Homo sapiens: one gene and its partners. The protein of the gene in region 1 purifies or fractionates together with the protein of each later gene. This does not show direct contact. Each region holds a gene or a part of one and is shown in the gene's direction. Other genes may lie near its edges. The genes, in order: KDELR2, LYG2, ECPAS, HEPHL1, PKP1, EIPR1 and MACROH2A1.

Region 1 (4,210 bases):
GGGCGGGCAAGCAAAGAAAAAAGAACAGCAGTACATACCACTGGGTAGGAAAATGTTGGCAAGGATGTGAAGAAAGGGTCTTTGCATTTCGTGTTAGTAGATACGTAAATTGGCATAGCCTTTCTAGGAGAAATTTGACAATATCAAATTTTAAAATGTTCATGTCTTATTTTTGGTTTATGTGTTTTAATTTGCATTATTTGGGGTTACGGATTAAAATTTTTTAATTGATACATTATGATTGGATCTATTTATGGGGTACAGTTTGATGTTTCAATACATGTGTATGTTGTATAGTCTAATCTGGGTAGTTATTTCCGTCACCTCATGTGTTTATCATTTCTTCATTCGAAAACTTCTAACTATTTTGTAATATATAATACCTCATTGGGAAGATTGCTTGAGCCTAGGAGGTCAAGGCTGGAAGCTATGATTGCACCAGTCTACTCCAGCCTGGGCTACAGAGAGAGACCCCATCTCGAAAACAAAACAGAAAACAAAAGACATTTAACCTGGCCCAGTAGGATAAGACAAGAATGATGTTGTTTAATGACTGATTTCCATTTAACAAGTTGTACTCCTTAATATAGATGTTTGGTGTATTTGGTAAGGGGATATCAGTTTCAGAAACATTTACAAAAGTGAGTATTCTGGGAGATCTTATTACCTGGTAACCTTAGCATGCTTTGATCTCAAAGTGGAGAGAAGCCGACTAGGAGCTGCTCTGGTTTAATAGCAGGTATTCTACTCCCAACCCCTCCAGGAGATTCTTGCCCCACCCCCTTCTGTCTTCAGCTAGGATTCCCATTTTCCTATGAAGACAGGACAGTTTTGTTGTTTTAAAGGAAGAAGCTGCTACTTCCTAATCAGGATCTCAGGCTGGGGAAGAACAGTGTGGGACCACGTTAGCATCCGCAGATTTCCAGCAAGGCTGTCCTGCGTGGACGCTACTCCATGGACCGGCTTCAAACCACACACTGCCCTGTGCGCACCTGGGGCTCTCTCACCCTCTAGCTAGTAGTTAATTAGGGCAGAGCCCTATTTACAGTCACAGAGACACAGTATGACCTGGACATTCTTCAGAAGTGTTCTCCCAAAATACCACAAAATGAGAATTTGACCCCATGACATGAAGATAAAATGAATCCCATTTTCTTTTGTCCATTTATTCATTCAGCAAATATTTTCTGAGTCCTGCTGTGTGTCAGGGCCCAGTGTCCCATGCAGGGAATACAAGATGGAATAAGGCATGACCCCAGCCTTTAAAGATCTTGGTACTGAGTGAGGTTTTTGGGGAGAGGAGAGGCAGGAACCACATCATCACAGTGTATTTTTATAAGTACTGTAATTGGAGCTAGGGCAGCAGCTGGCATGAAGCAGTTCCCCTTATGTGCTTGCTGAATGAATCAACAGTCCTGAGGGAGGGTATCTTCAGAGATGACATCCCAGAGGAGGTGGGATATGAGCTGGGTCCCCACGGGGGCTGGTAAAGACAATATGATGGTCCCTGGTTTTCAGTATAGGAATGCTGGGAATGAGGACACAATTTCAAATCTGCCTGGCTTCCAAAGTTCTGTTAGAGTAAAACCCTTTCCCACAAAATTCACCTACTTGTATCCTGTATGTTTATATTTAAAATATTGGAAAGAACCATATAGGAAATAAGCTGGAAATTGATTTCTCAAGGCTTCAACAAACACCAGGTATGGTCTGACTGCTCCCTGTTCTTTCTTCTTCCCCCTCTGAAACCTCCCGGTTTCTTGGTTAGCAGCAGCCTTGTCATTTCCCCTTTGGAACATTGGTCTCTGTAGGAAGAAATCAGTTATCCGTTACGGGGAAAAGACTAAGAGCAGATTCACTGTCCGTGTCTCCTCCTTTGGCCCTTTGGTTTCTATTGATGGATCTGGAAGGGTGGCATCAACATTTTTTTCCATTTCTATTTAGATGTGTATGTGAATAGGCTGAGACTACAGTTATTCATCTGAGAAAGTAACATTCTTACATTCAGGTTTTCAGTTTCAGCAAGCTGCAAAATGATTGTTCATAAAATATTGAAAAACAACATGTAATACAAATATTAGCCAGGTGTGGTGGTGCACCCACCTGTAGTCCCAGCTACTCAGGAGGCTGAGGTGGGAGGATCACCTCAGCCCAGGGAGGTCAAAGGTGCAGTGGGCTGTACTTGTGCCACCGCACTCCAGCCTGGGCAACAGAGTGAGACCCAGTCTCAAAAAAAGAAAAGAAAAATAATGTGCTTTTCACGTTCCAGAGGAGTGTTGTGAATGATTTGGGTGAAGTGACTTTTCTGTTAAATTCATACTTACTAAAATGTGTAGTGGTGTGAAGTATGCATTATAGATGAGGGTGGGTGGGTTCTGACATTTAGTCAGCCTTCAGTTTCTTTAATGCATTTGCTCAGTCTCCAGCATCTGAAACCCATAGTTTGCGTCCTTTGTCACATAAATATTTGGCCAAATATAGATGTCAGAAAAGCTGTGTGCACACCACATAAATGTCCAGCCTTCCTGGCTGAGTGTGGCTGTGCCATGCAGTGCTCTGGAGGTGGGTTGGTGGTTGGAAGTGGAAACACAGTTTCAAGGCTTTAAAAAAGACAGCTGCTTTTGAAGACCAGCTGTAGTTGTGGGTTCATACCTTCATGTTGTCCTAGCATTCAGGAACATTTTTATACAAATACAATGGAATTTCTATTTTATTGTAATTAATTTATTTTTTGAGACAGGGTCTTGCTCTGTCACCCAGGCTAGAGTGCAGGGATGTGACCACAGCTCACTCAGCCTCAGCCTCCTGGAGTCACGCAATCCTCCCACCTCAACCTCCCATGTAGCTGGGACCACAGGTGTGTGCCACCTTGCCTGGCTATCACTTTTCTATTTTTCGTAGAGATGGAGTCTGGTCTCAAACTCCTGGGCTCAAGCGATTCTCCCGCCTTAGCCCCCCTATATGTGGAGATTATAGGCATGACCACTATGCCTAACTGAGAGGGAAGCTTTAAAAATCTTAACATATCCAAGTAATTGCCGCTCTTAGCAAAGAAGTCACCATGGGATGCGATGCCATTATTCCAGCGGGAGTTCCTGCCCAACTCTTACCTGAGTCGGTGCTTCTCATCTACTCCTCATCCCCCTTAATGACAGTAGACTCCATCTCCGTTCTCAAAAGATTTCTCACCATGGAGATACTGTTTTACCATACAAAGAAGGGACCAGGCGACATGGCTCATACCTGTAATGCCAACGCTTTGGGAAGCTGGGCCCAGGAGTTCAAGACCAGTGTGGGCAACATGGTGAACAAAAAATTTGTTTAAAAATTAGCTGGGTGTGGTAGTTCACACCTCTAGTCCCACCTACTCTGGAGGCCGAGGTGGGAAGATTGCTGAAGCCCAGGAGGTCAAGGCTACAGTGAGCTTGATCGTGCCTCTGCACTCCAGCCTGGGCAGCAGAGGGAGACCCTGTCTCAGGGGAAAACAAAAAAGAAAAATCTGAATGTAAGAGACAAGTTATAACACTAAATGACAGCAGAATTATTGAGAAATTTGTTCCTACTTAAGGTGATATATTTGAGAAGTAAAAGGTTCGTTTGAATGATACACATCCTGGCATAATAAAGCCCCTTTCCTGTGGTCGCCCTTTATAGTGAGACAGAAAAGCCTGTTAGAGCCTCCCAAAAGGAGCATGTTTGGGAATGGGAAGGGATAGAAAAACTACAACTGCTCTTGTTCATTCAGAGCCATCCCTAGACCTGGGCCTTGACCCCACGCACCCCTCCTTCCCTGTCTGCACTCCCTGCACAGTGTGATCCACAGGAATCCCAAAGCTCTTCAGGCCCTTCTAATACTTCCCTTCTGTTTCTCTAGGTATTTCTGGGAAAAGCCAGCTTCTGTTTGCACTGGTCTTCACAACTCGTTACCTGGATCTTTTTACTTCATTTATTTCATTGTATAACACATCTATGAAGGTATGGTATGCCATCCACAGGAATGTATTTCATCTACAGTGCACAGGTCTATGGACACTTAATTTATGTCAGCTGTGTATTTTTAATTAAAATGCTCCAAAAATAATGTCTTAATATGCTGTTCTTGACTTTAAAACTTTCAGACCACCTTGTATATATAACTGGGACTAAACGAGCTATCAGTAAGCATACATTTTTGGTTTCAAAACAGTAGTTAATTAAAATACTTTGAAGT
Region 2 (4,631 bases), on another chromosome or scaffold:
GCTGGAGTGCGATGGCATGATCTCGGCTCACTACAATCTCCACCTCCCAGGTTCAAGCGATTCTCCTGCCTCAGTCTCCTGAGTAGCTGGGGTTACAGGTGCCTGCCACCAAGTCCAGCTAATTTTTGTATTTTTAGTAGAGATGGGGTTTCACCATGTTGGCCAGGCTAGTCTTGAGCTCCTGACCTCAAGTGATCTGTCCACCTCGGCCTCCCAAAGTGCTGGGATTACAGGCATGAGCAATTTGAAGGAGAAACAGAGCAGAAGCGACACCTGTTGGGGGTTGTGGATCTGTTTGTTTCTGCAGTCAGAGATCAAAAGGATGTCTTAGAATGGTTGTCCCAAGTCATTAGCAGTGATCAGAGGCTGTGGCTAACTTAGCAAATTTTTAAAAATGGTTTTCTTCTGAAGTAGAAGAAACAGTTTCTTTTCTTTTTTTAACTTTAAATTCTTTTTTTTTTTTTTTTTAATTAGAGATGGGCTCTCACTATGATGCCCAGGCTGGTTTCGAACTCCTCCTGGGTTCAAGCAATCCTCCTGTTTCAGCCTCCTGTGTAGCAGGAACTGACTTCAGGCACACACTACCATGCCCGGAAAAACAGTTTCTTTTCTATTGACGTAGGGATCCGTGGTTCTGAAATGTTTGCTGAGATGGATTTGAGGGCCATAAAACCTTACCAGACTCTGATCAAAGAAGTCGGGCAGAGACATTGCGTGGACCCTGCTGTCATCGCAGCCATCATCTCCAGGGAAAGCCATGGCGGATCTGTCCTGCAAGACGGCTGGGACCACAGGGGACTTAAATTTGGCTTGATGCAGGTATTTAGCTAGAAACTTTCTATCAGCCCCACTGCATCCCTCCTCACAGAAGCTCAACCTGAACTAGAAATCCATTTGCAGTGCTTCCAAGCCCCAAAATACCCTGGCATCTGGCTACAGGTACTCCAGCATAATTTTTTTTTTTTTTTTGAGATGGAGTTTCATTCTTGTTACCCAGGCTGGAGTGCAATGGCGTGATCTCGGCTCACTGCAACCTCCACTCCCGGGTTCAAGTGATTCTCCTCCCTCAGCCTCCTGAGTAGCTGGGATTACAGGCACACGCCACCATGCCCAGCTAATTTTTTGTATTTTTAGTAGAGACGGGATTTCACCTTGTTGGCCAGGCTGGTCTTGAACTCCTGACCTCAGGTGATCCACCCACCTCAGTCTCCCAAAGTGCTGGGATTACAAGCTTGAGCCACTGTGCCCGGCCACTCCAGCATAATTTGATCTGGGATTTCTGTAACACATCTTTTTATTTTATTCAAGGCTTATTCATTATTAGATATATTTTAAAAAGTATTTTAGGAGTTTCATAACTACCATTCTGCAATAAATAATATGTAATACACTAAAACTGAGAAAATCTTATAAATAGCATTATTGTTACAGGTGTCCTCTTGGGGTTCATGAAGTAGTAAATTTCATCCATGTGGATCAAAACATGGTATAACTGTGCCCTACTTGAAACAACTTGTTCCTTTGGGTAAACTGGAGGAAGGGGATCCAAATTATCTGGATATTTGCTTCCAGGCTCGATTTTAAATTGTCTGTAGAAATACAGACTTCTGGCCTTCCCAGTTAGAAACAAATTTTTATCTGAATTAGCTGGATAATTATTTATTACTATAAATGTGTAGACTTTGGGTGTTATTTGTTTCAAAACAACTTAAATTTTTTTTTTGTATATTAGAATGTTTAGCTAAAACTATACCATGTCCATTTCTCCCAAACCTTACTTTGTTTCTCTGACTCTCATCTATATGAAAGAAAGAACAATAGAATTGACTCTTTGGGGATAAAGGCCGGTATCTATGACTTGAATACCAGGAGAGGAAATTAGGAATGGCAGAAAAAATGTGTTACCTCATCCAGATGCTGACTTTATTATCTGAATTTTCTAGCTTGATAAACAAACGTACCACCCTGTCGGTGCCTGGGATAGCAAAGAGCACCTTTCACAGGCTACTGGGATTCTAACAGAGAGAATTAAGGCAATCCAGAAAAAATTCCCCACGTGGAGTGTTGCTCAGCACCTCAAAGGTAGGCTGTATTCTGAGTACTTTGTTTAAATGAGCAATGAATGAGACCACTGAAGGCCAGTGTGACCCGAGACTCCCTGGGAGCATTTCCACGGGGTCAGCAGTGGCCCTGGGAGGAGCTGTCTAGAGGCTGCATTTGCATTCCCTGAACCACTGAGTTACTTTGAGAGGTCCTCCATCCTCAACCTCCATTTCCTCTTCTGCAGAATGTTGGGGTTCTTATTCATTGCTTACTGAGCTATTGAGTGATACCTTGAAACATAGTGAGACCCTGTCTCTACAAAAAAAAAAAAAAAAAAAAAAAAAGCTGGGCATGGTGACACACAGTCCCAGCTACTCAGGAGGCTAAGCCAGGAGGATTGCTTGTGCCTGGGAGGTTAAGGCTGCAGTGAGCATTGATTACATCACTGCACTCCAGCCTGGGAGACAGAGTGAGACCCCATCTCTCAAAAAAAAATTTATCTATCTATCTATCTATCTATCTATCTATCTATCTATCTATCTATCTGTTTGCCTACCTCTCATAGGTTTTTTCCTGTTATAAGAAACTGTCAACAACTTTCCAAATTGTCTGAACAATGTTACTCTGTGAGTATTTTCGGGACTTCAGGTGCTATATATCCAAGTGGAAATCTCTGCTTGGCTGACCACAGGCCCCCTCAAGTTCAGCATCTCCCAGATGGAATTAACTCACTAACTTCCCACTATAAATTTGCTCTTTCTTCTGCATTTTACATGTCTTGGAGGCACCATAATATAGCCAGTCATCCCAGCCTGAAAACCAGATTGCTTTCTTAGGCTCTCTGGTTCCTTCTCTCTTCACACCCAACCACATCAATTCCTATTAGGTTTGCCTCCTATTGGCCAATGTTATGTCCTCCACACTCTAACGGCCTTAATCAGAACAGTTTCTAGTCTCTACTTCAAGGTCCTTGAAGGCAGGGATCAGGACCAGGCATCTTCCTCTCTGGATATCAGAGCAGAGCACAATTATGTTAAACACATACATAACTACTAGAGATAAAATTCTAGGGTAAAATAGCACACACATGCATATGTACACATACCCAAAGAAATAAGTGTGTCTTGGGTACCTTGCAGTCAGTGTGGCACCTCTCCTGGCACATAGTAGGTGCTTGAAAACATTTCCTGAATGAATAAATGAGTGAGTGAATAGATGAGTGAATTATTGAATAAATGAGAGAATGTTACAAGCATTTTCAGCAGAGGATGTACTGGGAGTCTAGTTCTGCCAGGCCTGGATTACATAAAAAAGCAAATCTGATTTTTGCAACAAGAAAAACCAAAGACTTTGGAAAAAGAGAAAGAAAGCAATCTGGAATTTTCCCAGTGATTCTTGGGATAGCACGTCCTTTCAGAAAGGGAGGGAGAGGGAGGAGGATTTGGGACTGCCTGCTTTGGAAGATTTGCCTGGAAAGCTAACATCTTGGCAATGCTCATTGCTTATTTCTGTTGAAAGTTAATATTTGAGCCTAATTCTCTGTGTTTCATTTCAGGTGGTCTCTCAGCTTTTAAGTCAGGAATTGAAGCGATTGCCACCCCATCGGACATAGACAATGACTTCGTCAATGATATCATTGCTCGAGCTAAGTTCTATAAAAGACAAAGCTTCTAGGCAAAGCTCTGTGGGTGGGCCAGGTTGGCAGAGTGCTCAGATGGCCGCCTTTGAGAGTTTTACGTGAATGTGTTGTATACAACACTGGCAAAGAAATGATTAAAATCATGAAAGAAAATTCATTTCCCAATTTTCTGAATGAAAATAAGCATTGAAAAAAGGAAAGAAAAATAAAAGAAATCCATCCAGTTCACAATATGGTTCCTAGGAAACGGACATAGACATATATATAATTACTTTGCAGTAAATGTGAATATCATGGCAAATGGTCCCTAGGTATTCCAGCCAGGCTTCATTTTAGCCTGTGATTCCAATGCCCACCTACTCCCTGTCTACCAGAATTGCTAACAAGTTAAGTAAGCCTTACCCGAGCCTTTGTCTTTTTTCCAGTATCTGCCCAGAGCCCTCAGGCTTTGCTTATGAGAAGTTCCTGACTCGTAAGCCAGCCAATCCATGGGACAATGGAAGAAATAGGGATGGAATTCTAGCTTCATGGGAAACTGAGAGCCAACTGAGGTGAAGCTGTCATTCAAGTTAGATACACCAAGTCCTTCAAACCCACAGCAACCTCCTGTGTTTTCTTTTGTCTGTGAAGATCCAGGGACTGGCTTTTCTTATTTTCAGCAGTTGCTGCCACACGCTTTCTTTCACGGGGTCCATCCCTCACAAAACATGGCTGAAGATAAGCATGTAGGACCCAAATCAATTATGGTTCTTTGGTTGCAAGCAAAAGTAACCACTTATAGAAATTTTAAGCATTAAAAAGAAATTACTGGAAGGCTAACAGAACAAACTAAGAAGGTCAAGGAGATGAAGAGACACCAGGCAACTCTGGGGTCTGGGTAGCAGGAATGGGTTAACCATACTTTACAGCATCCATAGTAAGCAAATGAATTAGCACCCTCACCAGTATC
Region 3 (4,210 bases), on another chromosome or scaffold:
AGTAAAACAGTACAAATTAGGTCTTACCCTCCATGATTTTATGTGATTTGCTAGAAACATTTGTTTCTTTTCTTTTCTTTTTTTTTGAGATGGTGTCTGGCTTTGTCGCTGAGGTTGGAGTGCAGTGGTGCTATCTCAGCTCACTGCAACCTCAGCCTCCTGGGCTCAAGCGATTCTTGTGTCTCAGCCTCCTGAGTAGCTGGAACTACAGGCACGTGCCACCACGCCTGGTTAATTTTTGTATTTTTTGTATAGGTGGGGTTTCGCCATGTTGCCCAGGCTGGTCTTAAACTCCCGAGCTCAAGCTATCTGCTCACCTTGGCCTCTCAAAGTGCTGGGATTACAGGTGTAAGCCACCACAACCCAGCCTGCTAGAAACATTTCTAATTGATTTTACCTGTTTGTTTTGCTATTATATGAGTTGAACAATAGCCTGTTTAGATCAGTTACCCTTAAAAACAATAAATATCGTAAAGATTTTGGTTTCTCCTTTTCAGAACCTATCTACAAGACCTCTTGTGCTTTGACTATTCATGCTATTGGACGATACAGCCCTGATGTATTAAAGAATCATGCAAAAGAAGTCCTGCCTCTGGCATTTTTAGGCATGCATGAAATTGCTGATGAGGAGAAATCCGAAAAAGAAGAATGTAATTTATGGACCGAAGTGTGGCAGGAAAACGTACCTGGTTAGTAGTGTGGCCTGAGTTAAACCTGCTTCTTAGGAATCACAGCTAGAATTTTTTACTTGCATTCGTTATTCATAAACTCCTCTGAAGTTACTTTCCCAGGACCTTAATATGCATCCCATTTAGTTTTAAACCCATCCAAATTGCTCATCCCATTTAGTTTTGAACCCATCCAAATTGCTGAGTTCTCAAGGTTGGCACTCAGGATTTTTGTCTTTACTCATTCATCACTGCCCACATGAGAGAATATAAACCCTGTGAGCAAGGAGAGCTTTACATTTTTAATTAAGAGTGTGATTTTATGTGGCCTTAGAGTATTTTAGAGTAGTTTTCTAAATGTGTTTTTCACCTTGTCGCATATTAATTGATGATGCCCATTTGTGTGATACGTTCCTGTGGGCACCCAAGTTCGTAAAGTTCTACTATTGTGAGAATAAGTCACAACACCAACACACTTTCTCTCCCTTTGAGAGAGTGGTGTGTTTTAACAGTTGAGAGTCACTGCTTTTAGACTGTTGGTCACTGACTTTTTTTCAGGTTTAGAAAAATCAGTTAATTTTTCTTGTCACTTAAAAGTTGTTTTAATTTTGCTTTCCTAGGATCCTTTGGTGGCATTCGATTATACCTGCAGGAGTTAATTACTATTACCCAGAAGGCTTTGCAGTCTCAGTCCTGGAAAATGAAAGCCCAGGGTGCAATTGCCATGGCATCAATTGCAAAACAGACTAGCTCTCTAGTACCTCCATATCTCGGAATGATACTGACCGCATTGCTGCAAGGCCTGGCTGGAAGAACGTGGGCAGGAAAGGTAAAGGAACCATTCATACCCAGTTAAAGGGATTCTGACTTCATCTTTCATTTTGCATAATAGTAACGATCTGGTTTTGTGTAACTTTTCCAATGGATTATTTTTGTGAACTAGATTTCCTAGACAGTGGAAGCTTTGGGTAAACCTTGCCTGATTAACTGTGGTATTTCCTCTCAAACTGCAACCCGTGTGGCCTTGCATAATGGACAGTAATGCTGGAGATAGATACATTTTCCATATTCAGCCTTCCAAGTTACGTCTTAAACCAACTTGTCAGCATTTTGTACCTGTTGACCTCATGAACAGATCAGGATTGGGCATAGAAAGATCAGGATTGGGCATATGTGAAATAGAGTAGCAAGGTAGCCTGCCTCTAAACCTGGGGCTGAAGATGCCCATCTCTGGGACCTATGAATTAGTAACAGTTATTTTTTTACACAAGAGCTTTAGTAGGATTCTTAACAGTGAACACTCAGTGGGGAACATGAGATTGTGGTAACCTAATGATCTTTATGTTGTAAAGGTCAATAGTGGCCCATGCAGGAATGAAGTAGTACCGGACTGGGAGTCAGACATCATTCCAATTCTGTGGTTGACACTGTTTTCTGTGAGACCTGGGTCGAATCAGTTCTTTAGGCTTCTATGAAATGGAGGTGAAGATAATTATCCTACATCCATGGTTTGGAGTAAAACTTGGTGGATGTGCTTAAAATTATGCATTAAAGATAAGGTGACTGTTGTTAATTTTTGTTGTCATAGTTATCAAAAATTCCTAAGGTAATTGTAATCATGGTTTAGACAGTGTAAATGACATGTTTGGGCTTAATAGTATTTCCTCATCTTTCAACCCCTTAGGAGGAGCTATTGAAAGCCATTGCCTGTGTGGTGACAGCTTGCAGGTAAATGTTCTTTCAATGAAGATGCCATTTCTTAAACTGGACCCGAAAACTGCAGCCTTTATTAACTTCTGATGCTTTTGTATGGACCCTGTAGTGCAGAGCTGGAAAAGTCTGTGCCCAATCAACCCAGCACAAATGAAATTCTTCAAGCTGTTCTGAAGGAATGTAGCAAAGAGAATGTCAAATACAAGATTGTAGCAATCAGCTGTGCAGCTGATATCTTGAAGGCCACCAAAGAGGACAGATTCCAGGAGTTCTCTAACATTGTCATACCTCTCATCAAGAAGGTAATACCACCTGTATCCTCAGTTCTGGTTTATACTTTAAAAAGAAAAAGTTAAAAAATTGTTTTCCCCTATGTCCTGATTATTAGGATTAGTTTAGCTGCAAGTAGCAGAGAAATTCCAAAATACGGCCTTAAACAAGATAGTCAATGCTATGTTTCTCACAAAGCGTTGGGAGCATCACAAAGTGTTCAGGTATTCCGTCTCTTTACAGCTCTGAACTCTGCCATTTCTAGGGTGTGGTCATCATCCTCATGGTCCACAGTGTGTTTGTGTTCTAGGCAGGAATGCAGAGGAGATGAAGCAAGGATGAAGGATACAGTGGGCATGCCATGTCTCTCTTGAGGAGAGTTCCTGGGCACCGCTAGATGGCACTTTGACTTATAGCCATCCTGTTGGTCAGTACTTAGCCACACCTGGCAGCAGACTGAGTCTTCATTCTGGGTGTCCATTTGCCCTCCATGGGAGAAGGGGAGAGTGGATTTGGTAGTGAATGAACAGTTTATGTCATAATAAGCTTTGCCTTGGCTAATAAGCTAAGCCACCCCAGCCATCCTAGAGTAAAGGCAAGAAGCTCAGTGTGCCATGTGAATTGCCTCTGCCATATAGTGGAGGATTTGGGTCAAAAAAAGACTCAAGTTTCATGTGGAAAATGGAATACTCATTTTTAAAAGTTGGGCACTGGTCCCCCCCCCAAAAAAAAGGGTGTGGTTTCCCTGTTTATTTGTGAAACATGAAATATTTTAAGTAACATTCTTATTTCTTATTGCTCCTAAATTGCAGTTGTTTTCTTTCAGTAATAAGGCTATTTAAATAATTTCCATTACAAACATAGTGATAGCATATGGATTTGGGAGACTTGTGTTTTAAGTTGATTACATCACTAGCAAGCTGGACCAGTTGCTTCTCTTAGCCTCTGTTTCTCTATCAAGAAAGAGTTTGGATTTAGATCATTACTGAGTTTCTTCCATCTTTAAAATCTGATTCTAATGCAAGTCTTTTCATGTTATGCTCAAAAGACTACATATGCAGTATTTTTTAGCTTTTGTTTACAGATGCCTGTAAAGTATTGCCTAAATTTATTAGAGATACAGTATTCTGGTTATAAATTCTTGTTGTAAATAGGGAAACTTATGGTAGAGAATTTATCATTTAACTCTTGGTTAATATCTCCTGCCTTGGTTGGTACCCTGATAGCTTTAATAGTATACCTGTAACTTTGAAGAAGAAAATATTACATTTTCTTTTCTTTGATATATCCTAGAACTCACTTGAAAGCAGTGGGGTCCGGACAACCAAAAATGAAGAGGAGAATGAAAAGGAAAAGGAGCTCCAGCTGGAATATCTGCTGGGTGCCTTTGAAAGCCTGGGCAAAGCCTGGCCGCGAAACGCGGAGACCCAACGTAAGCACCAGAAACTGCATTTGAAGTGCTGTAACCAGAGGTTACTTAATGAGAGCGAAGAATTTTCTCTATGACAAATTATAGTTATTGTTTCTTATCGAGCCTGATTGATTAATAATGAGAATTA
Region 4 (3,887 bases), on another chromosome or scaffold:
CATCTGTAAATCTTTGGTGAAGTGTCCAAATTGTAAGCCCATTTAAAAAAATTGGGTTACTTGTTTCCTTATTGTAGAGTTTGAGGGCTTTATATATTCTGGATACAAATCCTTTTTCAGTGATGTGACTCACAAATATTTGCTTCCAGTTTGTGGCTTATCTTTTCATTCTCTTAACAGCTTTCAAATAGAAGTTCTTAATTTTTGATGAAGTAAAATGAAGTACAATTTTTCTTTTTTCTCTTTTATAGATCATACTTTTGGTGTCATGTATAAAAAATTTTGGCCTTACTGAAGGTCCCAAAAAAGGTCTCTGTTTTCTTTTAGAAGTGGTATAGTTTTAGATTTAGGGCTCTGATACATTTTAATTTTCATATGTGGTTCAAGATATGAAATAAGGTTCATTTTTTTTTCATATATATGTCCAAATGTTCCATCACCACTCATTGAAAAGATCATCTTTTTTTCCCACAGAATTGACTCTTTACTTTTGTGAAAATCATATTGACCACATATATGTGGGTCTATGTCTGGGCGGTCTCTTCTGTTACACTGGTTTATACTCTGCCCTTTCTTGAATGCCACAATGTTTTGATTACTTTAGTATTATAGTAAGTCTCAAAATCAGATGGTGATTGTTTTAGCTATTCTAGATGTTTGCCTTCCCAGATAAATTTTAGAAATAATTTGTTGATTTTGATTTTTAAAATCCTGTTGGGATTTTGATTGGTATTGCACTGAAGCTATACAATGGGTTGGACAGAACTGACATAACAATATTGAGGCTTCCAATCCATGAACATGGTATATCTATCGTTTAGCTCTTCTTTGATTTCTTTCATCAGCATTTTGTAGTTTTCAATATAGAGATCTTGCATATACTTTGTTTTATTTATTTATAACTAAGTATATAAAAGGCTTTGGTAATAGTGTAAATGATAGTGTTTTTATTTTGATTTATAGTTGTTTATTGCCAATATTTAGAAATATAATTGATATTTGCATGTTGACCTTGCATCCTGCATCTTTGCTAAACTCACTTTAGTTCCAATAGTTTTCCTATAGATTTTAGGGGGATTTTCTATGCAGACAATCATGTTGTCTGTGAATAGACATGGCTTCATTTATTTTCAATCTGTATGTCTTTTATTTCTTTTGTCTTACTGCAATGGCTAGGACCTGTAGTGCAATTTTGAATATGAGTGGTGAAAGTGGACATCCTCAGTTTGTTCTTAATCTTACAAGGGGAGCATTTAGTCATTCACCTTTGAATATAAAGTTAGCTGCAGCTTTTTTGTGGATCCCATTATGAGGTTGAGGAAATTTCCTTCTAAATTTGCTCAGAGTTTTGATCATCAACAAATGTTAAATTCTATCAAATGGTTTTTCTGCATCTATTGAGATGATCAGATGCTTTTTCTTCTTTAATCTGTTGCTGAATTACATTTATTGATTGTGGAGTTTTTAAACACTTTTTCATTCCCAGGATAAACCTTACTTGGTCATGATGTATTATTCCTTTTTGTGGAATTGATTTGCTAGTATTTTGTTATGGATGATGGTATCTATGTTCATGAGGAGTATTGATTGTAGCTTTTTTTCCTCACAAAGCATTTGTTTAGTTTTGGTATCACAGTAATGCTGGCCTCATAAAATGAGTTGGAACTGTTCTTTCCTCTTCTATTTTCCAGAACAGTTTGTTTACAATTGGTATTATTTCTCCATTAAATGTTTGGTAGAATTTGCCAATAAAGCCATCTGGAGTTTAATTTGTTGGAATATCTTGAAGCAATTACAGTTTCTTTAATAGATATAGTGCTATCCAGGTTATCAATGTATTCTTGAGTAATCTTCAGGAGTTTGTGTCTTTTAAGGGATTTGTTCATACCATCTAAGTTGTACAATTTTTGGATAAGAGGTGTTTGTCCAGTATTTCCTTTTTAATATTTGTAAGATTTTAGTGATGTCCTCACTTTCATTCTCAGTATTTTTAATGTGTCCTTTTCCCTTTTCCCTTGGTTAGTCTGTCCAGAGATTTGTATTAGTTATCTATTGCTGCATAACAAATTACTCTAAACTTAGAGTAATTCTTGGATCAGGAATTTGGGATTAGTTTAACTAGTTGGTTGATTCAGAATCTTTCATGAGGAGGCAATCAAGATGTCGACTGGAGCTGCAGTTTTCAAAGGTTTGACTGGAGCTGGAGGATCCACTTCCAAACTTACTGATATGGTTGTTAACTAGAGGGTTCAGCTCCTGATCATGTGGATAAGACATGAAAACTGGCTTCCTCCAGTGAGTAATCCAAGAGAAGAGGGTGACAGAGTATCTAACACAGAAGTAATGATAACCTAATCTTGGAATTGGAATGCCAGCACTTCTTCCACATGCTATTGATTTCGCATACCAACCCTTATACAATGTAGGTAGGAACCACAAAGGTTATGAATACCAGGAGGTGGGGATCATTGTGGGCCATCATGGAAGCTGGCTACTACAGAATTTATTGATTTTATTGATCTGTTCAAAGAATCAGTTTTAGATTTCTTTGACTTATCTCTATTGTACTTCTATTCTTGATTCCTGCTCTTTCTTATGTCCTTCCTTTTGCTTACTGTGGGTTTTATTTGTTTTTGCTCTTCTTTCTGTTCTTGCTGTTCTGAGCAAAGAAGGCTACTAGCTGTTGTTTTTTAAAACGTTTTTGCAGATAGATAAATCTTACCGAGAAGATGTGTATGATCTCTTTCCTGGGACATTCCAAACCATTGAACTGTTTGCAGATCACCCAGGGACATGGCTGCTACACTGTCATGTGTCTGACCACATCCATGCTGGCATGGAGACAACCTACACGGTCCTTCGTAACATAGGTACGGTTGTCTGTCAGTGATGCCAGATGATGGCACCGAGCTTCCTGTAGACCCCCAAAACAGGAGGCATGACAAAAACCCAGATATAGCCCTCAACAAGCTCAGAGTCAAGTAAGAGAGACATATATGTAAATATGTAACTATAATCAAGTATGCTATGTGCCGTAGCAGAATGCAGAGTACAGGGCTTAATAGCAGCAGTAGGAGTGAATGGGTAACAGTTGGAGGATATGAGCCAAAGTTTCACAGAGGCCATGATGCTCCAGATAGACTCAGTGGGTGAGCAGAAGTGGGAAAGACAGCTGGGGCAGGAAAGCATGTACATGGGAATGAAGTAGCACAGTAAGAATCCAGAAATGATTGGCAGATACTGATGGGATAAGTCCTCGCTGGTGAAATGAAATGACTAGTGTCATGAAAAGAATCCCCTTCTGTTGTTAATAAAACAATGAACTTGTTTTCTTTGTGCAGACAACAGGATTCCTTACTCCACCACATCTCCTGGAGTGGCATCTCACCCAGCCACGGTGCCATCTAACGGTAATGATACCCTCTCCCCATGTAAATGAGTCAACATTTCACCCCTCAAAAATGTCAGGGGCCTGACAAGTTTATCTTTTTCACAGAACGACCTGGCAAAGAGCAGCTCTATTTCTTTGGCAAGAATCTGGGTCCAACAGGAGCCAAGGCAGCCTTGGTCATCCTTTTCATCATTGGACTCCTCCTTCTAATCACCACGGTGATTCTCTCCCTCAGACTCTGCTCTGCAATGAAGCAGACAGATTACCAGCAAGTCCAGTCCTGTGCTCTCCCCACGGATGCTCTGTGAACCATCTGGTCTCCCTCAACAGGAAAGGGTGATGTCCCACAGCTGGCCAGATGGCAGCCAACAGGGAAACTGGACCAAGGCATCACTCACCAAGGAAGGTTGACACTGTATCCTGGATCAGCCTTCTGATCCTCTCAAACATCATCCAAAGCAATTTGCTTTTATTTATTTATTTTTAAATGGGCTGC
Region 5 (4,210 bases), on another chromosome or scaffold:
TTTGAGTAGAGAATAACTAGATCAGCCTCATCTCCCTTGACCAGGCAGCGTGGCAACTCTTTCCTGGCAGGTCTATCAGCTGGGAGGCATCTGCAAGCTGGTGGACCTCCTCCGCAGCCCCAACCAGAACGTCCAGCAGGCCGCGGCAGGGGCCCTGCGCAACCTGGTGTTCAGGAGCACCACCAACAAGCTGGAGACCCGGAGGCAGAATGGGATCCGCGAGGCAGTCAGCCTCCTGAGGAGAACCGGGAACGCCGAGATCCAGAAGCAGCTGACTGGTAGGACAACACGGCCACCGAGAGCCAGCCTGAGGGCTGTGCAAGGCCACTGGCTATGGCCCCAGGCTGGGGTGCAAGCCTGTCTCTCCAGGCTGGGCCAAGACACAGCTGTGCAGATTTGGCCCAGGGCTAATATCCTGAGAGTTTAGTGACACTGGCCTTGGCCCAATTAGGGGTGTCCAGAGGGTGACCTTGGGTGGTGTGCACACACAAGGGGTCACCATCTTTTTGAGGTTAAAGAGCAAAAGGAGGAAGGCTGATGTCCAGGCAAGATCCATATTCCACAAGCCCTGGGATTCCCAGGTGATGGAAAGAGAGTAAGACTGAGGGGAGAAGGGGTTAACAGGCCTTAAGCACCTACCCTGTGTTCAAGAAATATGGTAGGCACTCAAGGTGGGGGGCACAAGAGGAAGAGGTCACCGTGAAGACCTAGAATTGGGCTGGGAAGATCAGACCATGTACAGAGTAATGACTGATAAGTATTTCTGGCATAACTTTCAGATGGAAAAGAGACAGCGTTAGAAGACTCCAAGTGCTAAAATTTATACTAAAAACCACTGATCAATCAAACGTTTTTTGATCACTTTCCACATGCATAATTTTGGCCTTGACAGAGAACTCTGAGATGTTCCCTGCCTGCAAAGAACCTTCAGTCTGGTTGGGGCATTGAGAAATAGCCTCATGACACAGACAGACAATAGGTTCTACAGACCAGGGCTACCTGGAAAGCGACATTTCAGTAGGGCCCATTTGCCAGAGTCCAGGCTGGGGCTGTTACCTCGGTCCCTAGGGCATCCTGAGCCTGGCACAAATTGGGTTGATGGTCTCTGACCCCCAGGGCTGCTCTGGAACCTGTCTTCCACTGACGAGCTGAAGGAGGAACTCATTGCCGACGCCCTGCCTGTTCTGGCCGACCGCGTCATCATTCCCTTCTCTGGCTGGTGCGATGGCAATAGCAACATGTCCCGGGAAGTGGTGGACCCTGAGGTCTTCTTCAATGCCACAGGCTGCTTGAGGTGAGAGAAGAGGATACATGGGGTCTTTTTGTCCCAGCCTTGGGCCCTTCCCCAGGCAGCCCCATCTCAGCCAACATTCAGCCGGTGCATAGAACATAACAGACAACCCGGCACTCCCTCTTATGGGCAGGCTCCAAGACACAGGGACTCAGGCCTTCCTAACTTCCCTGGAACTGGATAAGGCCCAGGACCCTACCACCCCCTTTGAGAGAATGCAGCGGACATTAGTCAGAAATCTGAGCTTGAAAATGCCTAGATCTGAATATCCAAACTGGTTCAACCATTTCCCTCCTCCACCCCATGAAAAAAAATGCATTTCTTGTGCTATCATCTTGAAGAGTGTTCTTTTAGACAAAAGTCTACCGATGGGTTGCTAATGAGTCACTTCCCAGCTGTGGTGTTAAAACCATTTGCCATGTTCATTGGCATGAAGATGGCACTGCTTCACCCAAAGTTGCCTAAGTTCCATACCAGGGTGTGGCAAAGCCCCTGTGGGGCTGGTGGGAGGGCTTGTTCTAGAAGCAGTGGTTTACAAGCTGGCGAAATGGGTGGGTGTGGAGGGGCGGCTGGTACAGGGCTTGGAACCCTGGAGCAGGATCCCTTTTAGGGTCTTTAATGGGGTTTGTCTTGCTTTAATGGGATTTGTCTTTCCCAACTCCTGAGAATCCCCCCAGAGTGGTGGGTGCAGCTGGCATGTGCCTCTGTGTCTCAACTTGTGTTTCTCCCTGCCAGCCTCCGGTAGCAGCCTCCAGGAAGCAGAGAGGCTGGGGAGATGAAAAGTGAGGATAATTAAGAGTTTTATGGGGTTGATGTGCTACTGGTAGCAACAGCAGCCACACCCCACCTGCACCAGGCTGATGAGCCCACATTGCTTGGGGATGAGCCCACATTGCTTGGGAGTGAGCCTACTGCTGGGGGCAGAACACAGCTTGGGTGGAGAGGGAGCTTCTGGTGCCCAGCCCGGCCACCCCCAGATCCACTTCTGATCCAGCATCAACAGGGCTTCTTCCTGTCCCACAGAAAGAGACTGGGCATGCGGGAGCTTCTGGCTCTTGTTCCGCAAAGGGCCACTAGTAGCAGGGTGTGAGCCTTGGGATGCAGCTGCGGAGGGACCGTTGCCACATGGAGCCATTGCCAGTTATAAAGTTACTGGGCAGAGTGAAGGAGGAGAAGAACTGAGTGCAAATGAGACCTCATTTCAGCCTCAGCCAGGGCCAGGCGGAATTGGCTAAATGGTTTCTCTTTCCTTCCGTTTTCATCTTTTCCTCTCTTCATTCCTTTCCTCCCTTTCCTCTTCTCCTTCCTTCCTTCTACCACAACTTCCAATCTCCACCCCGTCGTCTCCTCTCTGCCCTCCCCTCTCCTGCCTGTTCTCTCTCCTGCCTGTCCCCCACCACACTCTCTTGTCCCCACCTTCCCCGTTCTCTCTTCCCCCTTTCTCTGCCCTCTTCCACCCTCTTCTCTCCCCCAGGAACCTGAGCTCGGCCGATGCAGGCCGCCAGACCATGCGTAACTACTCAGGGCTCATTGATTCCCTCATGGCCTATGTCCAGAACTGTGTAGCGGCCAGCCGCTGTGACGACAAGGTGAGTGCATCCCCTGGTGGCACCCTGACCCCTAGGCCCAGCCCCCTACATTTTCTGGGTGCCTTTGAGGCCTGGCCCAGTGACAAGACAGGAGCACAGACTCAGGGGTGGTAGAAGAGGCATCTGGATGCAGGGCTCAGTGGTGGCTACAGGAGTGGGCTCTGGGGACAGCGTGCCCATGCAAATCCACTCTCCCTCACTTAGAAGTGGAGTAGATGCAGCTGCTTCCCTAATCTCTCTGTTTCCCGGTTCACTCTTCACTCTAATGGAAAGGGTCATAATCATATCAACCTCAAGGGTTGTCTGAAAGGCTTGATTAGTTAATAAGCAAAACACGAAGAGGGCCTGGCACAGAGGAAGCTCCCAGCGAGCATCTGCTGGCTGTGCTTCATTGGTGGTGCTGAGGCCTGTCCTGTGACCCCGAGCCCTGCCCCACAGCCCAGAGGAATCCATACTGGTGCCCCCAGGGCTTAGTGTCCCCCCTGAGATGAGGCTCCTTCTGCCACTGCTATCTTCCCACTGCCTCCCAGAAAAGCCATTGGCAGTCATCTTGCTGCCCTCTCTGGACTTCTGGACACACAGCACAGACAAACAGAAAGAAAAAAAGTTGTGGAGGGCAGATAAACAGAAGGCTGAGATGTTCCCACCATGGCAGGACAGTGGCTCAGGAGATAGTGAGGCCCAGCAGGCTCCAGATCGCCAGGGAACGGGCTGACATCACAGCACCTGGGTTCTCAGCACAGTTGCCGTAAGGAGGGATTTTATCTCCTGCTCCCTCCACTGGAAGCAACAGCAGGGCCACAGAGGAGAGCCTTGTCACTGGGCTGCTCAGCCTGCTTCCAAAGGGCAAGATGCTTTTCTGCTCTGTGTGCAATATCTCCAACACCTGTGTAACCCCAAGCCCTGGAAGTCAGATTCCCTTAGACCCCAGCAAGGGCCAAACATCATTAGGAGGGTAAATCTGCTGCCCCCAAACCCTAGTCCTTTGGAGGTTTGCCAAAGGAGATTGACAAAGATCTGAGCCCAGCTGCCATGATGAAGCCCTGGGCTCCAGGTGTTGCTGTGTTTTGTGTGGACTTAGCACCGCTGACATTGACAGCTAAGGACTGGCCCCAGGAAGAAAGAATGATGGGGGCACTAGATGGCTTTGGAATCTAGAGGCATGGGGCTTCTTCTGGAGGAGTTTGTTCTGGAAAAAAAAAAAGACACATTCTTCAATATCCCAGTCTGCCCATTGGCATGTTGTCCATAGCAGTCCTACCACACACTAGGCCCTGTGATAAGTGCTTTCTCTGTATCATCTTCCAAATAGCCTAGTGAAATGGACAAT
Region 6 (4,210 bases), on another chromosome or scaffold:
AGTTCTGTAGATATCTATTAGGTCCGCTTGGTGCAGAGCTGAGTTCAATTCCTGGGTATCCTTTTTAACTTTCTGTGTCGTTGATCTGTCTAATGTTGACAGTGGGGTGTTAAAGTCTCCCATTATTATTGTGTGGGAGTCTAAGTCTCTTTGTAGGTCACTCAGGACTTACTTTATGAATCTGGGTGCTCCTGTATTGGGTGCATATATATTTAGGATAGTTAGCTCTTGTTGTTGAATTGATCCCTTTACCCTTAAGTAATGGGCTTCTTTGTCTCTTTTGATCTTTGTTGGTTTAAAGTGTGTTTTATCAGAGACTAGGATTGCAACCCCTGCCTTTTTTTGTTTTCCATTTGCTTGGTAGATCTTCCTCCATCCTTTTATTTTGAGCCTATGTGTGTCTCTGCACGTGAGATGGGCTTCCTGAATACAGCACACTGATGGGTCTTGACTCTTTATCCAATTTGCCAGTCTGTGTCTTTTAATTGGAGCATTTAGTGCATTTACATTTAAGGTTAATATTATGTGTGAATTTGATCCTGTCATGCTGTTAGCTGGTTATTTTGCTTGTTAGTTGATGCAGTTTCTTCCTAATGTCGATGGTCTTTACATTTTGGCATGAGTTTGCAGCGGCTGGTACGGTTATGCCTTTCCATGTTTAGTGCTTCCTTCAGGAGCTCTTTTAGGGCAGGCCTGGTGGTGGCAAAACCTCTCAGCATTTGCTTGTCTGTAAAGTATTTTATTTCTCCTTCACTTATGAAGCTTAATTTGGCTGGATATGAAATTCTGGGTTGAAAATTATTTTCTTTAAGAATGTTGAATATTGGCCCCTACTCTCTCCTGGCTTGTAGAGTTTCTGCCGAGAGATCCGCTGTTAGTCTGATGGGCTTCCCTTTGTGGGTAACCCGACCTTTCTCTCTGGCTGCGCTTAACATTTTTTCCTTCATTTCAACTTTGGTGAATCTGACAATTATGTGTCTTGGAGTTGCTCTTCTCGAGGAGTATCTTTGTGGCATTCTCTGTATTTCCTGAATCTGAATGTTGGCTTGCCTTGCTAGATTGGGGAAGTTCTCCTGGATAATATCCTGCAGAGTGTTTTCCAACTTGGTTCCATTCTCCCCATCACTTTCAGGTACACCAATCAGGTGCAGATTTGGTCTTTTCACATAGTCCCATATTTCTTGGAGGCTTTGTTCATTTCTTTTTATTCTTTTTTCTCTAAACTTCCCTTCTCGCTTCATTTCATTCATTTCATCTTCCATCACTGATACCCTTTCTTCCAGTTGATCGCATCGGCTCCTGAGGCTTCTGCATTCTTCACATAGTTCTCGAGCCTTGGCTTTCAGCTCCATCAGCTCCTTTAAGCACTTCTCTGTATTGGTTATTCTAGTTATACATTCGTCTAAATTTTTTTCAAAGTTTTCAACTTCTTTGCCTTTGGTTTGAATTTCCTCCTGTAGCTCGGAGTAGTTTGATCGTCTGAAGCCTTCTTCTCTCAACTCGTCAAAGTCATTCTCCGTCCAGCTTTGTTCCGTTGCTGGTGAGGGACTGCGTTCCTTTGGAGGAGGAGAAGCGCTCTGCTTTTTAGAGTTTCCAGTTTTTCTGCTCTGTTTTTTCCCCATCTTTGTGGTTTTATCTACTTTTGGTCTTTGATGATGATGATGTACAGATGGGTTTTTGGTTGGATGTCCTTTCTGTTTGTTAGTTTTCCTTCTAACAGACAGGACCCTCAGCTGCAGGTCTGTTGGAGTTTGCTAGAGGTCCACTCCAGACCCTGTTTGCCTGGGTATCAGCAGCGGTGTCTGCAGAACCGCGGATTTTCGTGATCCGCGAATGTTGCTGTATGATCGTTCCTCTGGAAGTTTTGTCTCAGAGGAGTACCCGGCCGTGTGAGGTGTCAGTCTGCCCCTACGGGGGGGGTGCCTCCCAGTTAGGCTGCTCGGGGGTCAGGGGTCAAGGACCCACTTGAGGAGGCAGTCTGCCCGTTCTCAGATCTCCAGCTGCGTGCTGGGAGAACCACTGCTCTCTTCAAAGCTGTCAGACAGGGACATTTAAGTCTGCAGAGGTTACTGCTGTCTTTTTGTTTGTCTGTGCCCTGCCCCCAGAGGTGGAGCCTACAGAGGCAGGCAGGCCTCCTTGAGCTGTGGTGCGCTCCACCCAGTTCGAGCTTCCCGGCTGCTTTGTTTACCTAAGCAATCCTGGGCAATGGCGGGCGCCCCTCCCCCAGCCTCGCTGCCACCTTGCAGTTTGATCTCAGACTGCTGTGCTAGCAATCAGCGAGACTCCGTGGGCATAGGACCCTCCGAGCCAGGTGTGGGATATAATCTCCTGGTGCGCTGTTTCCTAAGCCCGTCGGAAAAGCGCAGTATTTGGGTGGGAGTGGCTCAATTTTCCAGGTGTTGTCTGTCACCCCTTTCCTTGACCAGGAAAGGGAACTCCCTGACCCCTTGCACTTCCCGAGTGAGGCAATGCCTCGCCCTGCTTCGGCTTGCGCACGGTTCGCTGCACCCACTGACCTGCGCCCACTGTCTGGCACTCCCTAGTGAGATGAACCCGGTACCTCATATGGAAATGCAGAAATCACCCGTCTTCTGCGTTGCTCACGCTGGGAGCTCTAGACCGGAGCTGTTCCTAGTCGGCCATCTTGGCTCCTCCCTGAAATATTATTTTCTGAGGTTTGAAAAATGAATGAAATTGATTCTCTAAGGTAGTCAAATATATTATTGGATTTTCTTCTTTATCTTAAAAGAAGTAGCTGACTTTTGCTACTTGGATTTTATCGGATAGTATCATGGACCAAGACTTTCTTAAGTTTGAAGAACCATCATTGCAGTAAACAAGAAAACTGAAAAGGATAGTGTTTTTTTTTGTTTGTTTGTCAGTGACATTCAAATCCCATGGAGAACACTTTACATGAAAGGATAGAGATCTGATCGTTGACCGCTGAGTGAAGGTAATGACACTTGAAAGATAAAGGGCAGTACTGCAACTGCAAATAAAAGACCAACACGGAGGGTCGTTAAGATCGCAAAATGCTGAGCAAATTCATGGTAATGATTCTGGATTTTTTTATAATTATATTTGAAATGCATGAAATTTCAAATGATATTTGAAATGCTTTTGCACACTTTTAGTTTACTGCTCAGTAGAAATCCATTTTCTCAATATGAGTTTAATGAATACTTGTCAGTTAACACAACAGTAGTTCTTTGTGACTATCTCAAAGTGCATACAAACAGTATGACTTCTCTCCTGCAATCATGTTTCTTTGAACTTTTGACATTAATAGATCTTCTTTGTTGTGTGGGTCAAATCTCCATGTGGCAAACTTGCCTTGTGATGGGAACAGTGAACCTCTAGGCAGTGGTGGCTCTGCCCATGTGTAGGTCTGGGGGCAGGCATGTGACTAAGATGGACCAGCGGCAAGCAGGGCCTGCAGGTGTGGGCAGAGTGAGGGCTACATCTGCCAACTCCTATTTGAGCCCACTGCTGCCAAGTGAGCTGGGCCAGACCAGAAAGGACGGTCGGGGTGGGAAGGTGGGTGACAATGATGACTTGGGCTTGTTTCAAGTTGCTTTCCCTTCGGTTTACCACCAAAACCAGGAAGCAAGCAGGGCAGGTTGTAAGCCACACAAGGATATGCGTGCCTCCTTTCTGTTCTGGGAGGTTCTCCTGGAGTCCTGAGATCAGTGCAGTCAGGTCAGAGGGGCAAAGAGACTGTGGGCTTTTGGCTTTTTGTGCCATCAGTCTGAGGGACAGATGGACCAGGCCAGCGCTTCAGGGTCTGCCTGTTGCCAAGTGAGGAAAGACTTTTGAAATGGAAGATGGAGATTAAATTTTCTTTTCTTTTTTCTTTTTTTGAGACAGAGTCGCTCTGTCACCCGGGCTGGAGTGCAGTGGCGCGATCTCAACTCACTGCAAGCTCCGCCTCCCGGGTTCACGCCATTCTCCTGCCTCAGCCTCCTGAGTAGCTGGGTCTACAGGCGCCTGCCACCGCGCCTGGCTAATTTTTTGTATTTTTAGAGAGGGGGTTTCAGGGTGTTAGCCAGGATGGTCTCGATCTCCTGACCTTGTGATCCGTCTGCCTTGGCCTCCCAAAGTGCTGGGATTACAGGTGTGAGCCCCCGCACCCAGCCGAGAGATTAAGTTTTCAAATGCCTTTTTATATCCATGGAATTGATAATTTGGTTTTAGGATTTTTCTCTTTTGA
Region 7 (3,885 bases), on another chromosome or scaffold:
GATCACTCTCTTAGCTGAGGCCCAGTGGCACAGCCTACATGGATGGAAGATGACCATAACCACACCTGTGTGATGGCTCCCTCCAGCCTGTGAGGCCCTGGCATCTGGACATCCTGTCCTCAGCCATTCTGGTCACGATATTTATGGATACCCCCACTCCCTCAGCTCTGTTTCACATTAGGGGTGACCCCTCTCCAGAGGGGTAGTACATAGGGAATACTAGTTTGGGGCTTTGATTAAACTTTCCTTAGATTTATAAGCTTAAAAGGAAAAGCTGGTTTATTTTTTTCAAGCTACTATTTATGGGTATGTGTTGAGCCCCAGGCGCGGTGCTAAACCCTTTATCTGCATTATCTCACAGCAACCCTACAAGGTGAACAGCATTATTCCTTTCAAGGGCAAAGAAACTGAAGCATAGAGGGGTTAAGTAAATCATCTGAGGTCACTCAACTTGTACTTGGTAGAGTGAGAATTTGATCAGAAGCCCTTCGCTTCAGAGCTGTTAGGCTCATGGAACCCCTGCCTCCCATCTCCATTGGTCAGCCAGACCCCAGGTCCCACCACCTCATCCCACCATAGGACTGCCCCCTGCCTGCGTACTCTCTGTGCATAAAACACTACCTGGGAACTCCCTGACCTGCCCAAGTATAGCCATCAGCCTCTTTCCCCTCCTAAGCATTGGCCTCAGAGGTGAGATAAAAGGACAGAAACTCAAGAGACCTTTGAATGGGGGAGAATTTTTCATTTACCCAAAGCCCGGGGGCCTGGAGTGGGAGGCCACTTTGGGGCTGCCCCATCCCCTCTCTAGCTGCAGGGGGCACAGCTCAGGGGAGTGGTGGCCCCATCACCATCGCTTCTGAATGTTCTCCCTCCTGTATACCATTGCTCTCGGCTCAGGATCCTGATGACTTGGATCAAAGTGGCCTGTGGCTGGGGCAACTTCAACCTGGCAATTACTAAAAAATGGTAAAGGCCTAAGAGCAGCCCACAGCACAGTGCGAGGGGGACCTAATCTTAGCAGAAGAATGTCTATACCCTAAGTGACAGACAAAGAATACCAGAATCCACCTCTACTCCTCCCCAGCCGTCAATTGCAAGCTCGCAATCTGTCTGCTCCAGAAAAATCTCCCTGGACTCCCAGGATACAGCCTCTCCTGCTGTGACTCTCTGAGGTCCCTAATGAGCTCCTAGCCTGGATTTGCTGCATACCTGCCTGGCCCCAGCCCTGGAAGGTGAGCTCACTGAGAGCAGGGGTGCTTAGTGAAGTCCCACTCAAGGAGAGGGCTGAGAAGAGCTGGGATGTGGTCCTTGGTGCACCTAGAGTCCCTGCGTGTCCAGACAGGACCGTGGGACAAGCATCCAATGCGTACACCCCCCAGCCATTACTGAGGAGGCTGACCCAAGAGGGCATCTTGCACTGGCCCTGGGAAACTGAGGTCCAGGACTCTTGGGAAAGGCAAAGGGCATTACAGACACAACTGGAGTGAATTTAGGGAAAGCTCAGATGTCTCTTTAGTCTGCTTAAGGTCCTAGCCCTATGGTGTAGGAAACTCTTGACTCCAGAGGAACTTAAGGAACATGCCATAAACACAACCCACAGGCCAGGTCAGGGGCTGAAGAGAGAGTGGAAACAACAAACAGTGCACGCATCTCCCAGGTGGGGCTGATGGTGGCCGCAGTACTGGCAGCCTCATCATCACCACCATTGTCATCACTGCACAGACCCCTGAAACACCTAATTTCTAGTGGAGGAAATTAATGCTTAGAGAGGTTAACACCCTGGCCCAAAGCAGCTGGGATTCAAACCCAATTCTGACTCTAGAGTGGAAGCCCTTAGTCCCTCTTGCTCTGCAACATCTGATCTGAAAGATAGGCAGCACAGCTGTAGGACAGAGTGGCTGGCACAGAGGCCAGGCCAGGCAGGAATGGCTATTCAGAGGGGCCGTGGTTATGCAAGTAGCAAGTGAACCCAGCTGAGAAGCCAAAGATGCAACACCAGTGGGCATGACTGCTCCTGAAAGCAGTCAGTACTGCACTGGGGAGCCTCTATGTAGCCCCTGCTGCTGCATGCCCACGGTCACGGCCAGCAGCTCTCTGGGGTCTGAGGCCAACATTGTTAGCACCGTGTAACTGCAACGACAACAGCAGTTACCCAGTCACAGCTATCCCAGGGACGAGGGTGGAAGGGGCAGTTTTCTACTGCATGAGCCTTTTAAAAGACCCTTCAAAGCCACCTACTTTATAGACAGCTCCTCTTAACTGAAGACTCTCTGTGCCATGCCCCGGTGCTTTGCATTTTCTTGTCCCAGACTCTGATTCCATTTCACAGGATGGGGAAACAAGGCACCGAAGTGGGACCACAACTCAAATCCTGTGTGACTCCGGGAAATCCTGAGCTCTTAACCACTCTGCTTCTCTACCCTGGAGGGAGTAGGGCTGTCAGGCCACCCAAGCCTCAGAGGCAGACCTGGGTCTGACCTGCCTCAGCTGCTGCATGTGCCACCGCTGCCTCTGTCTGGAGGCTGCAGGGCTGTGTGTGGAGTGCTCTTGCAGGGCATCCACCTACACATTCCATTTTGCTACAAGCATTCTAACTGGCAGCAAGACATTTTGAGGCCCACCAGAAAACGTTAGGAAAGCCGTTACCTCCGCCATTCCTTCCTGGCAGCCTGCGCAGTCCAGAGCAGCCACAGTCCCATAGCAGGGTTTCTTCCTTAGGCTGTAGCTTCCTAGGACAGAGGGATGGATTTGTCAACAAAGGGTTGTCCTGGAAACAAATCCAGATTCATGTTCACCCACCAACAACCCTGAAATGCTTGCAAGGCCAGGGACATTCCGGTGGAACCGTCTGCTCTCTATTAACGGGACGGTAGGCAGGTGTGGGCACTGCAAGTCTAAAACATTTGATACTGACCTCTCTCCCCCACTTGCAGATCCTCAACATCTGGGTCCACCCTGCCAGCTTGGATTATAAAGTCCATGCTGGCTATTTGTAGAACAGCAGTTCTCAAAAGCTGCTAGACCTGCTGAATCAAACTGTTGTGTTTTGACAAGCTCTCCAGAATTCTGATGCAGGCTAAAGCTTGAGAACTATTGATGTAGAGGAATAGAAAAGAATATTTCCTCACTGAAAGTCACATACTCTTTTGTAAGGGTCCAAGGCAGAGGCAAGGAAAGCCTCAGGAGGGGTCTGTGTCAGAAAGCACTGGTCACAGGCAGGAGTGACTGGCACACTTTTGGTGTGTTCCAGGGAGACCCCTTGGGACCTCCCAGTCAGCATGGCATGGCATGGGCATGGGCCAGGCTACACTGTGTCTGCATCATACCACATCTCACCCAGCTTGTGTGGGATGTAGCTAACCGTTGTTGGAGACAGCTGCCTGGGCATGCAGCCCGGCTGCAGCTACAGAAGCCCTGCCCCAGGGCTAGCTCAGCTAGGCAGAACATCGGGCCACCTGACAACTGCTGTTTGCAGTAGCTCCACAGGCCCTCAGCCCAGCCCAGCTCCCTGTGCACGTGTGAGGCTGAGACAGGCAAGAGGGCACCTCACTGTAGGGACCTTGGAGCTGGCAGAGCATGGTCTTGGGATTCACATGCAAAATGCAACTTCTCACAGCTCCTCTCAGCACCCTGCAGCCCCCGTTGATCCAGGTCACATCCACAGACTGGGCTCTGCCTGCTCCAGAAGCCCTTGGCCCCTAAGTACAGGCTGCAACAGGACCGAGGATCCCAGCCCACAGTTAGAAGCAGCCTGAGCTGCTGGAAAGATGCCCCCCAAAAATGGAAGATTGAGTTTTTATCTCCTCAAGCAATTCTCAACGTGGCTCATTCCAGATAACCTGTCCTCTGTGCTCCTTGACTCCTGTGAATATAGTCAGGGCAGCT

Evidence for each region.
Region 2: the proteins of KDELR2 (region 1) and LYG2 purify together in Homo sapiens (affinity purification with mass spectrometry; one large-scale study listed by BioGRID and IntAct). This does not show direct contact.
Region 3: the proteins of KDELR2 (region 1) and ECPAS purify together in Homo sapiens (affinity purification with mass spectrometry; one large-scale study listed by BioGRID and IntAct). This does not show direct contact.
Region 4: the proteins of KDELR2 (region 1) and HEPHL1 purify together in Homo sapiens (affinity purification with mass spectrometry; one large-scale study listed by BioGRID and IntAct). This does not show direct contact.
Region 5: the proteins of KDELR2 (region 1) and PKP1 purify together in Homo sapiens (affinity purification with mass spectrometry; one large-scale study listed by BioGRID and IntAct). This does not show direct contact.
Region 6: the proteins of KDELR2 (region 1) and EIPR1 purify together in Homo sapiens (affinity purification with mass spectrometry; one large-scale study listed by BioGRID and IntAct). This does not show direct contact.
Region 7: the proteins of KDELR2 (region 1) and MACROH2A1 purify together in Homo sapiens (affinity purification with mass spectrometry; one large-scale study listed by BioGRID and IntAct). This does not show direct contact.

What each region holds. Positions count from the first base shown.
Region 1 is NC_000007.14:6,473,949-6,478,158, reverse strand, and holds part of KDELR2 (ER lumen protein-retaining receptor 2), read left to right. Parts: intron 1-3,874; coding exon 3,875-3,975; intron 3,976-4,210. UniProt on the Homo sapiens protein: Membrane receptor that binds the K-D-E-L sequence motif in the C-terminal part of endoplasmic reticulum resident proteins and maintains their localization in that compartment by participating to their vesicle-mediated recycling back from the Golgi.
Region 2 is NC_000002.12:99,241,450-99,246,080, reverse strand, and holds the end of LYG2 (lysozyme g-like protein 2 precursor), read left to right. Parts: intron 1-622; coding exon 623-819; intron 820-1,943; coding exon 1,944-2,082; intron 2,083-3,598; coding exon 3,599-3,717; 3' UTR 3,718-3,835; downstream 3,836-4,631. UniProt on the Homo sapiens protein: May act as a potent antibacterial protein that may play a role in the innate immunity.
Region 3 is NC_000009.12:111,368,908-111,373,117, reverse strand, and holds part of ECPAS (proteasome adapter and scaffold protein ECM29), read left to right. Parts: intron 1-497; coding exon 498-689; intron 690-1,288; coding exon 1,289-1,497; intron 1,498-2,352; coding exon 2,353-2,396; intron 2,397-2,490; coding exon 2,491-2,683; intron 2,684-3,944; coding exon 3,945-4,083; intron 4,084-4,210. UniProt on the Homo sapiens protein: Adapter/scaffolding protein that binds to the 26S proteasome, motor proteins and other compartment specific proteins. May couple the proteasome to different compartments including endosome, endoplasmic reticulum and centrosome.
Region 4 is NC_000011.10:94,108,196-94,112,082, forward strand, and holds part of HEPHL1 (ferroxidase HEPHL1 precursor), read left to right. Parts: intron 1-2,707; coding exon 2,708-2,870; intron 2,871-3,341; coding exon 3,342-3,410; intron 3,411-3,496; coding exon 3,497-3,699; 3' UTR 3,700-3,887. UniProt on the Homo sapiens protein: Is a copper-binding glycoprotein with ferroxidase activity. It oxidizes Fe(2+) to Fe(3+) without releasing radical oxygen species. May be involved in the regulation of intracellular iron content.
Region 5 is NC_000001.11:201,317,502-201,321,711, forward strand, and holds part of PKP1 (plakophilin-1), read left to right. Parts: intron 1-70; coding exon 71-278; intron 279-1,116; coding exon 1,117-1,294; intron 1,295-2,314; coding exon of another isoform or gene 2,315-2,377; intron 2,378-2,765; coding exon 2,766-2,880; intron 2,881-4,210. UniProt on the Homo sapiens protein: A component of desmosome cell-cell junctions which are required for positive regulation of cellular adhesion.
Region 6 is NC_000002.12:3,367,693-3,371,902, reverse strand, and holds part of EIPR1 (EARP and GARP complex-interacting protein 1), read left to right. Parts: intron 1-4,210. UniProt on the Homo sapiens protein: Acts as a component of endosomal retrieval machinery that is involved in protein transport from early endosomes to either recycling endosomes or the trans-Golgi network.
Region 7 is NC_000005.10:135,336,775-135,340,659, reverse strand, and holds part of MACROH2A1 (core histone macro-H2A.1), read left to right. Parts: intron 1-1,084; exon of another isoform or gene 1,085-1,232; intron 1,233-2,646; exon of another isoform or gene 2,647-2,729; intron 2,730-3,885. UniProt on the Homo sapiens protein: Variant histone H2A which replaces conventional H2A in a subset of nucleosomes where it represses transcription. Nucleosomes wrap and compact DNA into chromatin, limiting DNA accessibility to the cellular machineries which require DNA as a template.